Linked DNA regions of Homo sapiens. The protein of the gene in region 2 purifies or fractionates together with the protein of the main gene of each other region. This does not show direct contact. Each region holds a gene or a part of one and is shown on either strand. Other genes may lie near its edges.

Region 1 (3,500 bases), on a different chromosome or scaffold from region 2:
GCCCGATGCACCCGCCAGGCCCTCCCCAGATGCACCTTGCTGTCCCCGAGCTCACACCCCCGGGGCCCCTGAGCAGCTGAGCTCAGGGGCCCGATGCTGGCAGAAATCGCCGCCAGAACCGTCTCGCAAGCCCCACCAACATCGCCAGGTGGAGACCCCACTCGTGTCTCCAGGAGCCCCCCAAGAAAATGACACATTGGAGCCCTAACCTCCAATTCCACCACGTGACCTTATTTGGAGACAGGGTCTTTCTGGAGGTGAGAATTCATTTTGCCTCCTTTGGAGATAAGAGAATTCAAACAGGGTTCTTTGCGGGGAGCCCTGGTCCCATGGCTGGTGTCCTCATAAAAGGGAAATGTGGATGCAGATACAAACTGACAGGGGAAGAGGATGTGAAGGCACAGGGCGAAGACGGCCACCCCAGAGCCAAGGAGAGAGGCCGGGAAGATCCTCCCTCCTGCCCCCAGGAGGGCCCAGCCCTGCTCACACCTCCGTCCGGGACGTTGGCCTGCAGAACTGCGGGAGGACACTTTCCGTTGTTGAAACCGCCCGTTTGGGGGACCTTGCAAGGGCAGCTTGAGCAGGTGGACACCCCTGTCCTTGCCGGACAAAAATGCATCAGCTTCCCCCCACTCAGCAAGTGACCAGCTACCCATGGTGAGACGGCTGGAACTGGGACACAGCCCCAGCCACCGCTGCAAACCTGCAGGCTGTGGGATGGGGGCTGCAGGTTGCCCACCTCCGAGACATGGCATCCTCCAGGGTTTAATCTTCTCTTATTTGAAGCCTCAGAATTAAAATCAGGTATACCATGGCCCGGCTCCAAGACACACACCGTGGGCCAGGCACACAGTCGGTGCCCTATAAATGCGTGTGATGCATTTGTTCTGTGCTTGGTGAGATTTCTGTGGCAGTAACTTATTCTTTCAACACTGGCTGAAGGAATGAATTTGCCGTCTGTGTGTCGGTCACAAGATTTGCCCTGGCCAACTCTCCACCGTGCGTGCCCCTGCCCGGCCACACCTGCCCCCACCACCCCTCTAACTGACCCACGACCATCAACTTCAGCCCATGGAGTCCAGCCGGCCTCTGCCCCGGCGCCTCTGGGGGCTCTTGGGAATGTATACCCCCCTCCAAATTCCTGGGTGGCCGACATCACACTGTTTACTTCCTGGAACAAGATTCCGCCATGGAGTGGGGAGGGCGGGGGGGTGCAGGACTTGGAAGGGAAGGAGCCCCAGCCGAGGCACATCCAGCACATCAGGAGAGAATCCCACGGAGAAGGGAGCAGAGGGAGTGGGGAGAGGCAGGTGGACGGACAGAGAGAGCTGGAGAGAGAGAGGAAGACCCCAGCGGAGATGGTGGAGGGAGGCCCAAGAGAGACAGGGACCAGATGGCACAGTCGGGATGGCAGAGAGGGGACTCGGGGAAGGAGCAAACCTCAGAGACAGCGAGGACATGGCCAGGCAGAGCTCAGGAGAGGAGGGGGTGGGCAGGGGGCGGTGACGACTGGGGAGGGGAGGCCGCAGAGCCCCCACCTTGCACACTGGGCCTCTGGAAGGAAAGTGTGGGGCCCTGGGCAGTCCCCCTGCAGTAGGTGGACAGGCAGCCCCCTCCCGCGCCCGTCCTGGAGGGTTCCGGCCAGAGGCGGCCACAGAGGTCTGGCTACAGGCCCTGGGGCAGGAACAGAAGGCCTCTGTCCACAAGCAGCTTCCTGCTGACCCAACCCCGCGTGGGAGAGGAGGTCAGCCCACCCTCGGCCCTGGCCCAGGAAGTGAGGGCACTGCCTGGGAGCTTCTGGGTGGGGGCCTCTGCGTGAGTCTCTCCCCTGGCCCCCAACAATAGTGGTGTCTCGGGGAGCCCCGCCACCCTTGGGAGCCACTGCTGGAGGGCTCCATGCACTGCACAGCGGCCGCCCCAGCCACCCCCACTTCCTGGCCCAGCCCTGAGCCCGCCTCCAGAGCTGCAGGGACCAGGAAAACTTAAGGGACCCTGCCTTGGAACTGAGGGTGCAGCAGAGACCCAACTTCACGACACCCTCCCAAGGCCTGGCCACAAATCCGACAAATGCCCCCAGCCACGAACCCCAAGAAGGAGGCCGCAATGTTCTCCCACCTGCTGGACGGCTTCCTGCGCCACGCACAACGCCTGCCCTCCCTCCAGCCCTGCTCCCTCCCAGCCCAGACACGCTGTGCCCCCTGCCCCATCTGCCCGAGGGCTGTGCCTGGAGACCTGCTTGGGCCCAGGAATGAAAGGAGCCAGCCCATGGCAGAGCTGCTCCAGCCCCGACAGGCTGACTGGCTGAGGGAGGTGAGGCGGGAGGTGGGGCTGTTTGTTCTGGGTGGTTTCTGAGCTCACCTGGCTGCCCAGCTGCCCTGTGACACCAGTATGGAAACAGCGCCCGGGGGCAGGCGCCCTGAGGCCTGGCTGCAGAGAACCCACAGCCGCAGGTGAGACAGGGCAGGCGGGCACAGGCAGGCTGACCAGGCAGGGGACCCGCCCACCCTGCCACCTCCTGGTGGGCGTGGCTGGGCGATCCTGTTTCCTGGCCGTAAAGCGGAGATTCACGGACACCTCTCTGTACCTGTGGGGCTCCCCAGTGTGGTCACACGTGGCTCAAGGAGCCGGAACATGGTACACAGGAATGTCCGGATCCCCGCCCCCTCCACCCGGGGTCGGTGGGGCAGAGGCAGAACCAGGAGCCCGGGTGCCCCACCTGGCTGGCCTGGCGCCCGAGCTGGTTCCTTCACAGCTGCTCTCCCTGAGGGCCAAGCGGAAGTGCTCTCTGCGTGCAGCAGGAAGGACTAAGGCCAGACAAAGGGAAGGACTTCCTGGTGGCAGAGCTACAGACAGGGAGACAGGACGTCCACCCTTCTGCTGTCAAGGGGTCTTCACTGGAAGGAGAGGGGAATGAGGTGGCAAGGGCGGGGCCTCACACAGAGTCTGACCTCAGAGCTGCCCTGAGAGGACAACCGGTCTGTGCCTGTCCCTCACACGCGTTTCCTCCCTTCCTGAAGACTACTGGGGACAGGAGGGACAGCCAAGGGCTGCATGAGGAGACCTCCACCCCAGCCACCACCTCATCCAGAGGTACGGCAGGGAGCAGAGGCTGAGGGCACGGGATGGGGGTGATGAAGGCACAGAGGCAGGCACGTCCAAAGAGCCAGGGGCCAGGCGCGGCGGCTCACATCTGTAATCCCAGCGCTTCGGGAGGCTGAGGCAGGAGGATTACTTGAGGCCAGGAGTTCAAGACCAGCCTGGGCAATATAGCCAGAACCCATCTCAATTTAAAAAAGAAACAATATGCTGAGTGAAAGTAGCCAGACACAGGCCAGACGCAGTGGCTCGCGCCCATAACCCCAGAACTTTGGGAGGCTGAAGAGGGCAGATGGATCACTTGAGGTCAGGAGTTACACACCAGCCTGGCCAACATGGCAAAACCCCGTCTCTAGAAAAAATATGAAAATCGGCTGGGTGTGGGGGTGCACCCCTTTAACCCC
Region 2 (5,499 bases):
GACAGGGCAGGGGAAGGGCCTCTGACCTGCAGCTCGATCCCTGGGAAAGCCAAGAAGGGGCCTGTTGGCCACAGGTGCATCATGCAGGCTGAGCCCGAGGCCAGGGGAGCACCACGACCTGGGCAGGCCCCCCTAGCTAAGGGGGATGGGGGGGGGGCGGACTGCCCGAGGTCACTGTGCAGCAGGCGCCATCGGCAGGAGCCCACAGTCCTGAAGTCTGAACCAACTAGGCCCTGACCCTGGAAGCCCTCTCTTCCCGCTTCTCAGCCCACTCAGGTCCTGATAAGCTCCAGGCTTCAGCTTAGGGCCCCTCTCCCTGCAGCACGTGCCCACCCACTCCCAGGCTGAGGACACAAACCTGCTTGCCCCTGGGCCACGCTGTCCCGGCCAGGAATGGCCCCTGCGGCAGAGCCACTGTTTCAGGCTGGCCCAGAGCCCTTCGGAGAAGATGTCTCCAGCTTACTGCAGCCACATTTGAGGGTCCCCGCCACCAGCACGGGGAGAGGCAGGGGGCTGAGGCAGCTGGGAAGAGCGAGTGACACAGGGTATGTGCTGCCCCCACGGCACCTGCAGGCTGGCTGTGGACCCTCGCAGGCAGTGAGGGGCGAGTCTGCTCCAACCCCCACTCTCGGGGCAGCCTCCGGGGTGCCTGCTCCTGGGGCTGCCCACCAAGCAAGTGGCCGGGATGCCCACAGTGTGGGGGGGGGGCGGTCACCGAGACGCTGAGACGTACACAGGCTCTGACCTGAGAGAATTCTTTTTATTACGAGTGAACAGATGAACTAAGGTAAGCGGGTCTCAGCCTTCCGCTGGTGCAGCATCTCCACGCAGGGCCTCAGCCCCGTCCTGGCCTTGCCTGAGGACTGCACCATGGGTGTTCCTTGGGCATGGAGGAGGCAGCAGGAAGGGGTGACAGGAGCAGGAGCAGGTGCAGGGCACCTCACACCACAGGCCTCCCCCACCTCTGAGCTGCCAACAGCCAAGACTCCTGGCGAGGCCGGGAGAGGAGGGGTGAGAGGGAAGGAGGGTCTCTGTGAAAGCAAGCCCCACCCCCAGAGCAGAGCAGAGACCCAGGTCTGCAAATCACACCCTCCCCCCACGAGTTCCTCCTTTGAGGCCAGCAGCACCCGAGGGAGGGCAGGGGCTGCACGGAGACCAGAGAAAGGAAAACCCCACAGAAGAAAACTCAAAGCATCAGTCCCATGCGTGTCTGCTGAACGAGTGAATGGGCCCAAAGGCTCTTCTCTACAAACGGCACGCATCCATCCGACAGGGGGCCACAGGACACGGCCGGGGCCGTCTGCGTCTGTGCCTGTGCAGCCCACACCAGTGCAGCCCGGGGCCCTCTCAGACCTCACCACACGCGTGCCCAGCACATGTGTGCACACGCAGATGCAGGAGAGAACACACACCACCGTCTCTTTGCACACGTGTGCCCCTGTCCGGCCCGGGGGGCTCATCTCTCCTTCACGTGGTTCTGTGCTCCCGGGCCCCCGCTGCCGGCCCCATCCCCACTGCCCCCACTGTGGACCCCGCCGGCCCCGCTGCATAGCACCTCGGTGAGGTCGTCCATGATGGCGGTCTCTTTGGGGTCCAGCAGGTTGAACTCCCGAGCAAAGAGGATGAAGTGGACGTAGAGCGTGTTCAAGTGTCCGTGCAGCTCCAGGGCCAGCGTCTCCTTGAAGTGGGCCCAGTAGATGTGTGCCAGCACGTGGAACAGGTGTCTGCAGATCTTCCTCACCAGGGACTCAAAGGAGCTGGGGAATTCTCTGCCTGGGGAAGGCCACCGTGTCACAAGCTGCAGACATCCCTTGGCCCCAACAGAGGCCAGGCCCCTGGCACCCAGCCTGGTGGGTCTGGTACCTGCCACCCACACCTTGACCCTGCCACCCTCAGGGCCTACAAAGCCCCAGCAGCAACAGCTTCTGCCCATCAGCAGGCACCACAGGGACTTGCCAACCCCGGGTCTGGGCTGCTGAGACCTCCCTGCGTGCTCAGGCTCCGGAGGCTGCACCTGCCCTGAGGGCTGGGAGCTCGTTGGGCCATCCTGGCCACCTCCTCAGGAAGGGGCCTGTGATCGGGCACTCGGGCCCCCGTGGTGTCTCCCTGATGGACACTTGGGGCCATCTCCCGGGCCAGGACGGAGGTGGCGATGGTGGCACAGGCCTCTCCTGTTGTCCCCTGCCGTCCCTCTGGCAGCACGGGAGTGGCGTGGAGCCCCACCACATCCCACCAAAATCTGGACACAGGCTTGGCGGCTGATACCCAGCCCAAGTGCCCACAAGCTGGACGGTGAGAGCAGCATGAGCGGCAGAAACCAAGAGGGGCCCAGTGCAGCCGCATGGCCCAGAGGGCCAGGGAGATGGCCCTTGGCCCTGGCTGGGCTGACCCCTGCCCAAGGGCTCCGGCCTCACCCCACAGCCCAGGTGGCTCCATGCTAAGCAGGGACTGGGGTGGTGCAGCTGCCGCCCTCCGTGCCTCTGCCCCTCCCGGCACAGGAGCTTGGTCACTTGCAGACACGTCCTGAATGCTCCCTGCCCCACTGTGAGGATGACCGCCCAGTGCTGGGGGAGACGAACCGTATTTTGTGGGGAACACGTCCTCATCCGTCACCAGCTTCTGCACGGAGCTCATGACGAAGTCAACGTACTGTGGGGCCGTGCACTTGACCTTCTTCCCCCGCTCGTCATACCAGTAGTACTGTCTGTGGAGACAGAGACACGGTCAGGGCATGCGCCCGCTGCACACCCACCCAGCCACTGGGTCCCACCCGCTCAGGTCATCTGCGGGCAGAGGTGGCGCCAGCAGCGGAGGTGTGGCAGACCCAGGTGTCTCCCTCCCTGGACATGCACACTGTCCCCACACACTGTCTGCGGGGACCACACTGCACTCTATGGAGGGGTCTGCCTGCGCTGACTTAGAACTACGCCAGGATCACGCTGGGGAGCCTGCCAGCCACATGGCTGTACAGGTGTGTGATTAAATGAAGGGGTCATCTTCGTTTTCTCCGCTTCTACATGGCTTCAGTTGTATTCGTTTACACAAGTGCGTGCTGCTGTTTTTCTGTTGTATTTTGAAAGCACACAGAGGCTCCTTCTCTTCCCAGGAAGCTGTGCTGTGGCTCGCCGGCCAGGCCCCACCCTTTGGGAGAGCCCTGCTCTGACTGCTAGAAGCCAAGCCCCTCTCCGGGGAAAGCAGAGGAGGGCGGTGGTCTCTGTGGGTACCTGCGGCTAACAGCCTGGCCAGGACAGGGACCTGGCCCCCTCTTGCCCCTGTACACAAGGGCGGCCAGTCCTCATGTGAGACTCGTGGCCCCAGAGCAGGCTGGAGCATCCTAGGGACATGGACACCCTGGGTTTGCCTCTTACTGTTGGGTCCAGCCATGACAAGGGTGTGCTCTAGTTCATGTTAATATAAGGTGACCCCCAGCCCCTAACACCCCTCCTCCCCCAGCACAACACCAAAACCCAGGGCACCCACCTGGCAGCCACCACCCCTCTCCCCCTGCCACGGTGCTGGGTCTCAGTCCTCCAAGGCCATGCCCACAGCGGCCGCCCCCGCAGGCCTGAACCAGGGCATGCTGGGGCCGATGCCGCAGCCCCACCCACAGGCAGTGGAGAGTGCTGTGGTGGGAGTGCTCACACCTGAGACACAGCCAACACTATGGGTCGGGATTTCCTCCCTGAGAGCCAGCTCCCAGCTCACCACAGGTGGGAATGGGCCACACAGCACAGAGCAGTACTGGCCACTGAGCAAACGCCCCCTCCACACCATGGCCACAACCACCATCGCCTCCACTGCCCCAGCTAGACCAACAGGCAGTCTGCCAGTACCAGGCTCCACATGAACCGCTCCCACCCTCCTCATCCAGTCACGGTTCCTCTTGGAATGGCCCTGGGTGGGGCAGTGCTGAAAAGGATGGACCCAGGCTCCACTCTGGAGGCCACTCTTCTCTTGGCCAGCTCCAAGCATCGTGCCCTGGGTTCCAGAGCCCACCAAGGCACCTGGGGAGACGCCCCAAGGGCTGAGACAGGGCCACGGGGGGCTCGCCCACTTCCTGCGCAGCCAGAGAAGCCATCCTCCCAGCTGGGCACAGGGCCTCCAGTGTCTCCGGGCACAGGGCCTCCAGCGTCTCCGGGCACAGGGCCTCCAGCATCTCTGGGCACAGGGCCTCCAGCGTCTCTGGGCACCCCTCTGCTGTGTCCAAGAAGCCCCTCAGCCTGTGCACTGCAGATCCCGGGGGGAGTCACCAGAGTTACCAAGAAGCTAGAGGATGACACTGCAAGCCCTGCATGCTGGCACCCTGCCCTCTGCAACAGAAACAGCCATCAGGCCACCTCCCAGCACCACCAGGGCCCTAGGACAACCCCCTCCCAGCACCCACCTCCAGAATGCAAACCAGGAGCTCTCATGTGTGCCCTGTGCGGGGCTGACTCAGCCCACCCGAAGGGGAAGTGCAGCCCCAAAATGGACAGGCCATGAGGACGGGGATGCAGTGCCCACACCTGCCTCTCAGGTGCTGTCCTCCCCCTGGGACAGCTCTGCATGACCTTCACGCCCACCTTCCCAGGCTGCAGGCCTCACCGTGGGCATCGCCACCAGGCTGTCAGACCCTCTGAGAATGCAGAGACAACAGTCCTTTCAGCATCTGCTCCTCGAGAATGATGTAGAGGACGCACGTATCCCCACTGTCCTGGGGTTCCCAGATGGTGTAGGGGAGGCCCAGCCCCTAAGGGCCAGGCTGAGGCCCATGTTTCCAGGGCGAGGACCCAGCCAGGATGGCTCAGCACTCTGCAGGAGTCAGACACTGGCTCCAGGTACCCTGACACTGCAAGCTGACATCTGATGCACCTGGCCACAGGTGTGCGACAGGTCTCAAAACAGTGGAGGTTAGAGACGGAAACCCTTTTCCACAATGCAAACCCAGAGAAAGCAGTAACTCAGGGACACTGTGGATTGTCCCATCTGTTCTGAAAGATGGAACACCACTGTTTCCTGTACTTCTTCAATTATCAGTAAACCGTTTCTGGTATATAGTTCTAAGATTTTTATCCACATGTGGACTCACGCATTCATAACCACAATCAGGACACGCGGCGGCTTACGTGGCCCCTCACACCCGTGCTGCTGTGCCCCCAGCACCCCGGGGATGGCTCCTCAGGGATGGGCCGCGGGAAGGAATCGCACCGCGCGGATCCTCCCGATCTGGGCCCCTCTTGCACGGAGGCCCCTGGGATGCAGTCACGTGGCAGACGTGTCGGAAGTCCACGGCTCCTCACTGCCCAGACACTGCCCCTGCAGAGATGGACATGGCGTGCTCATCTATTCACCTGTGTCCCTGCCAGCAGAACAGAGTCCCAGGTGGCCACATCCTGGCCAGCACCAGTGTCCCGACCGGCATGTGGGCAGGTGGACATGGGTCTGCCCATGGTTTCGGCTTGCCTTTCTCTAATTGCTAACAACACAGGATAGCCCCAGCTGCCATCCTTACACCCTCTT
Region 3 (3,500 bases), on a different chromosome or scaffold from region 2:
GCACCCTCAATATTTGATGGAGAGGTTTATAAGCAGTTCTCCCACCACCCCCACCAAATATAAGTTTTGAAGTCTATCAGCAAATCAGTGCAAGTAATTTTTGTACTTAGGAGAGAACAATGTTTATAAGAAACAACAAGATGAATAGCACAGCCACTTGAAGACTGCAGCAACCTTGAAATGGTATTCCAAAGAAAGTGGTTATTCTTATTGAAATCAATTCAGTCATCAAACTTGTTTTCCGGAAAACCATGACACAGAATACTATTTATGGAGGATCCAAGTTGGCTGTACCGCGGAAGGAATATCAGATTCAAAAAAGATTGAGGAAGGTAGGAAACCTGTAGGTGAAAACTGATAGGAAACATATAAAATATATAATAACAATCTGGTGTTTGGCTCTTTGCCCATTTCTTGTAACAGCCAAAAATAAGACATTTCTGTGTATAAGCAGCAAGATGACAATACAGGTTATTTTATTCAGCATGTGGGATGCCTCAAAAGAGCAAACAGGCCCTTTGGACGCCAGCTTTTTGTGAGAGGATATGTCCAGAAGAGCCCTCTTGCTGTGTGGCTTGTACTTTTTTCCTTCATGTATCAGCCCACTTGCAGACAGCATGAATTGTTTTGTAAACTTACAGGATGCCACTGTAAGAAAAGACGGGCCTAGGTGCAGTAGCTCACGTCTGTAATCCCAGCACTTTGGGAGGCTGAGGCGGGTGTATCACCTGTGGTCAAGAATTTGAGACCAGCCTGGCCAACATGGTGAAACCTCAGCTCTACTAAAAATACAAAAATTAGCTGGGTGTGGTGGCACACACCTGCAATCCCAGCTACTTGGGAGCCTGAGGCAAGAGAATCACTTGAACCCGGGAGGCAGAGGTTGCAGTGAGCTGAGATCATGCCAATGCACTCCAGCCTGGGCAACAAGAGTGAAACTCCATCTCAAAAAAAAAAAAAAAAAAAAAAAAAAAGATGGAGTGGGTACAGAAAAATAGAATGAATGAATAAGGCCGAGAATTCTATAGCACAACAGGGTGACTATAGTCAATAATAATTTAATTGTACATTTGAAACTAACTAAAAGAGTATCATTGGATTGTTGATTTATCCTTTGTCATCCACAAAGGATAAATGCTTGAAGGGATGGATACCCCATCTTCCATCACGTGATTATTGCGCATTGCTTGCCTGTGTCAAAACATCCCATGTACCCCATAAATATATATACACCTACTATATGTACCCACAAAAATTAAATATAAAAAATTGGGTCGGGCATGGTGGCTCATGCCTATAATCTCAAAACTTTGGGAGGCTGAGGCAAGCGGATCACCTGAGATCAGGAGTTCAAGACCAGCCTAGCCAACATGGTGAAACCCCATCTCTACTAAAAATATGAAATTAGCCAAGTGTGGTGGCGGGCACCTGTAGTCCCAGCTACTCGGGAGGCTGAAGCAGGAGAATTGCTTGAACCGGGGAGGTGGAGGTTGCAGTGAGCCGAGATCTATAGAGGGAGTTATTTTCATTCTGGGCTCGTTTTCTAACTTTTTTCTAAGGAACAATGGAAAGAAAGCAGTGGAAGGTAGCCACTGTTTGTCAGATTTCTCCAGCGCCTGCTATCATGCTAAGCTTGCAGCCTCTCTGGGTGGTGTTGATTTTGGAACCGCTGTGCATTGCCCTCTCCGTGGAGGTGGCAGTCATGTTTCTGACAGCAAACATGGAGAAAAAGAGAAACAAATCAAGGGAAGAGGGAGGAAACCCAGCCTGCATTTCAGGTCGCCTTTTTCTTGTTTTGACTTGGCTGTAACTCCAGAGAGTTGACAGACCCTCTAAATTGGCACTAAGCCCCAGCAGTTCTCCTTTCTTGTCTGTTAAAAATACCTCCTAAATTAGACAGGAATCGCAGGGGTCCTCACTTGTTTTGACTGGTGTGTGACCCTGTGATTGTAAAATGTTCTTCACAGGAACATCGTCTTGAGCAATCCCAAGAAGAGGAACGCGTTGTCACTTGCAATGCTGAAGTCTCTCCAAAGTGACATTCTTCATGACGCTGACAGCAACGATCTGAAAGTCATTATCATCTCGGGTATGTATCTGATATCTGTCCTTAGTATTCTGCAGTGCCCACAAGAGCTTTCTGAGTCTTTAGTAAACTGGGGCATCCCTTTATTTAACTGGAGAATTGTTTTGAAGCTCCTTTACAAGAACATTAATTATGGAAAACACCTGTGTAGTTGGTGGTTTGGTCCTAACGCTATTAACTGCAGAATTTATAACAAAGATGACTGTTCAGTGAAACTATGTCTTTTCCTTTTTGTCAGATACTAAAACATTTCTGTACTTGGCTATACTGGTCTTCCCCTCAAAATCAGAGAACTGATTTCTTCATGGACCTTATAAAATGGGTTTAACCACTAATCCTTTGGCGCATTTGATTGGTCTGACTTTTCTTTTCTTACCAAGCTTTCGAACTGATATCTGCAGTGCCTTTAATGGTGCTGGAAAAGATGCCATATTCTGCTAATTTGTTTGCTTGCTCCAAAAGGAATTTTTACAGAATTATTTTTTCTTGTGATGATGGGACTGGTATAAATAATAGTAATATTAGCATTTTAAAGCATACACAAAAAAATATGATGATGATGCTTTGTGATGCTATGTTTGTTTGGCAAATCAAGCATCAGTGTTTCTGGAGGCAGAAACTCAGAATGTTACCATCTTATCCATGGTTAATCAAAAGTGTTCAACTGTTTTATATGGTGAAGAGAAAAGAAATTAGAACTAGTACAGTCCAGCAGCCATGTGGGATGTTACCTGGATACAGCAAAGGCAGTTAACGTCTTCTTTTTTTTTTTTTATTTGATACATAGTCTTGCCCTGTTGCCCAGGCTGGAGTGCAGTGGCATGATTATAGCTCATTGCAGCCTCAAACTTCTGGGCTCAAGTGATCTCCCACCTCAGTCTCCTGAGTAGCTGGGACTATAGGTGTGTGCCACTACACTCAGCTAATTTTTTATTTTTTGTGGAGATGGTGTCTTGCTATGTTGCCCAGGCTGGTCTCGAACTCCTAGCCTCAAGCAACATTGCCACCACTGTGCCTGGCTAATTTTTAAGGTTTTATTTTGCAGAGACAGGGGTCTCACTATAGCTTCTTAACTACATAATTACCTCACTTACAAAAAGACAATAATATTGCCTATCAATCAAGATAACTACAACAGCCAGGCATGGTTGCTCATGTCTGTAATCCCAATACTTTGGGAGGCCAAGGCGGGCAGATCACTTGAGGCCAAGAGTTCGAGACCAGCCTGGCCAACGTGGCAAAACCCCATCTCTACCAAAAATACAAAAATTAGCTGGGCGTGGGGGCAGGCACCTGTAATCCCAGCTACTTAGGAGGCTAAGGCACAAGAATTGCTTGAACCTGGGAGGCAGAGGTTGCAGTGAGCCGAGATCGTGCCACTGCACTCCAGCCTGGGCAACAGAGCAAGACTCTG

Evidence for each region. Proteins that work in one complex are often made in the same cells at the same time.
Region 1: the proteins of MOB2 (region 2) and MICALL2 fractionate together in Homo sapiens (co-fractionation; one large-scale study listed by BioGRID). This does not show direct contact.
Region 3: the proteins of MOB2 (region 2) and ECHDC3 fractionate together in Homo sapiens (co-fractionation; one large-scale study listed by BioGRID). This does not show direct contact.

What each region holds. Positions count from the first base shown.
Region 1 is NC_000007.14:1,452,971-1,456,470, forward strand, and holds part of MICALL2 (MICAL-like protein 2), read right to left. Parts: intron 2,458-3,500; exon of another isoform or gene 2,359-2,457; intron 1-2,358. UniProt on the Homo sapiens protein: Effector of small Rab GTPases which is involved in junctional complexes assembly through the regulation of cell adhesion molecules transport to the plasma membrane and actin cytoskeleton reorganization.
Region 2 is NC_000011.10:1,468,716-1,474,214, forward strand, and holds the end of MOB2 (MOB kinase activator 2), read right to left. Parts: intron 2,705-5,499; coding exon 2,580-2,704; intron 1,774-2,579; coding exon 1,457-1,773; 3' UTR 742-1,456; downstream 1-741. UniProt on the Homo sapiens protein: Stimulates the autophosphorylation and kinase activity of STK38 and STK38L.
Region 3 is NC_000010.11:11,745,382-11,748,881, forward strand, and holds part of ECHDC3 (enoyl-CoA hydratase domain-containing protein 3, mitochondrial precursor), read left to right. Parts: intron 1-1,967; coding exon 1,968-2,089; intron 2,090-3,500. UniProt on the Homo sapiens protein: May play a role in fatty acid biosynthesis and insulin sensitivity.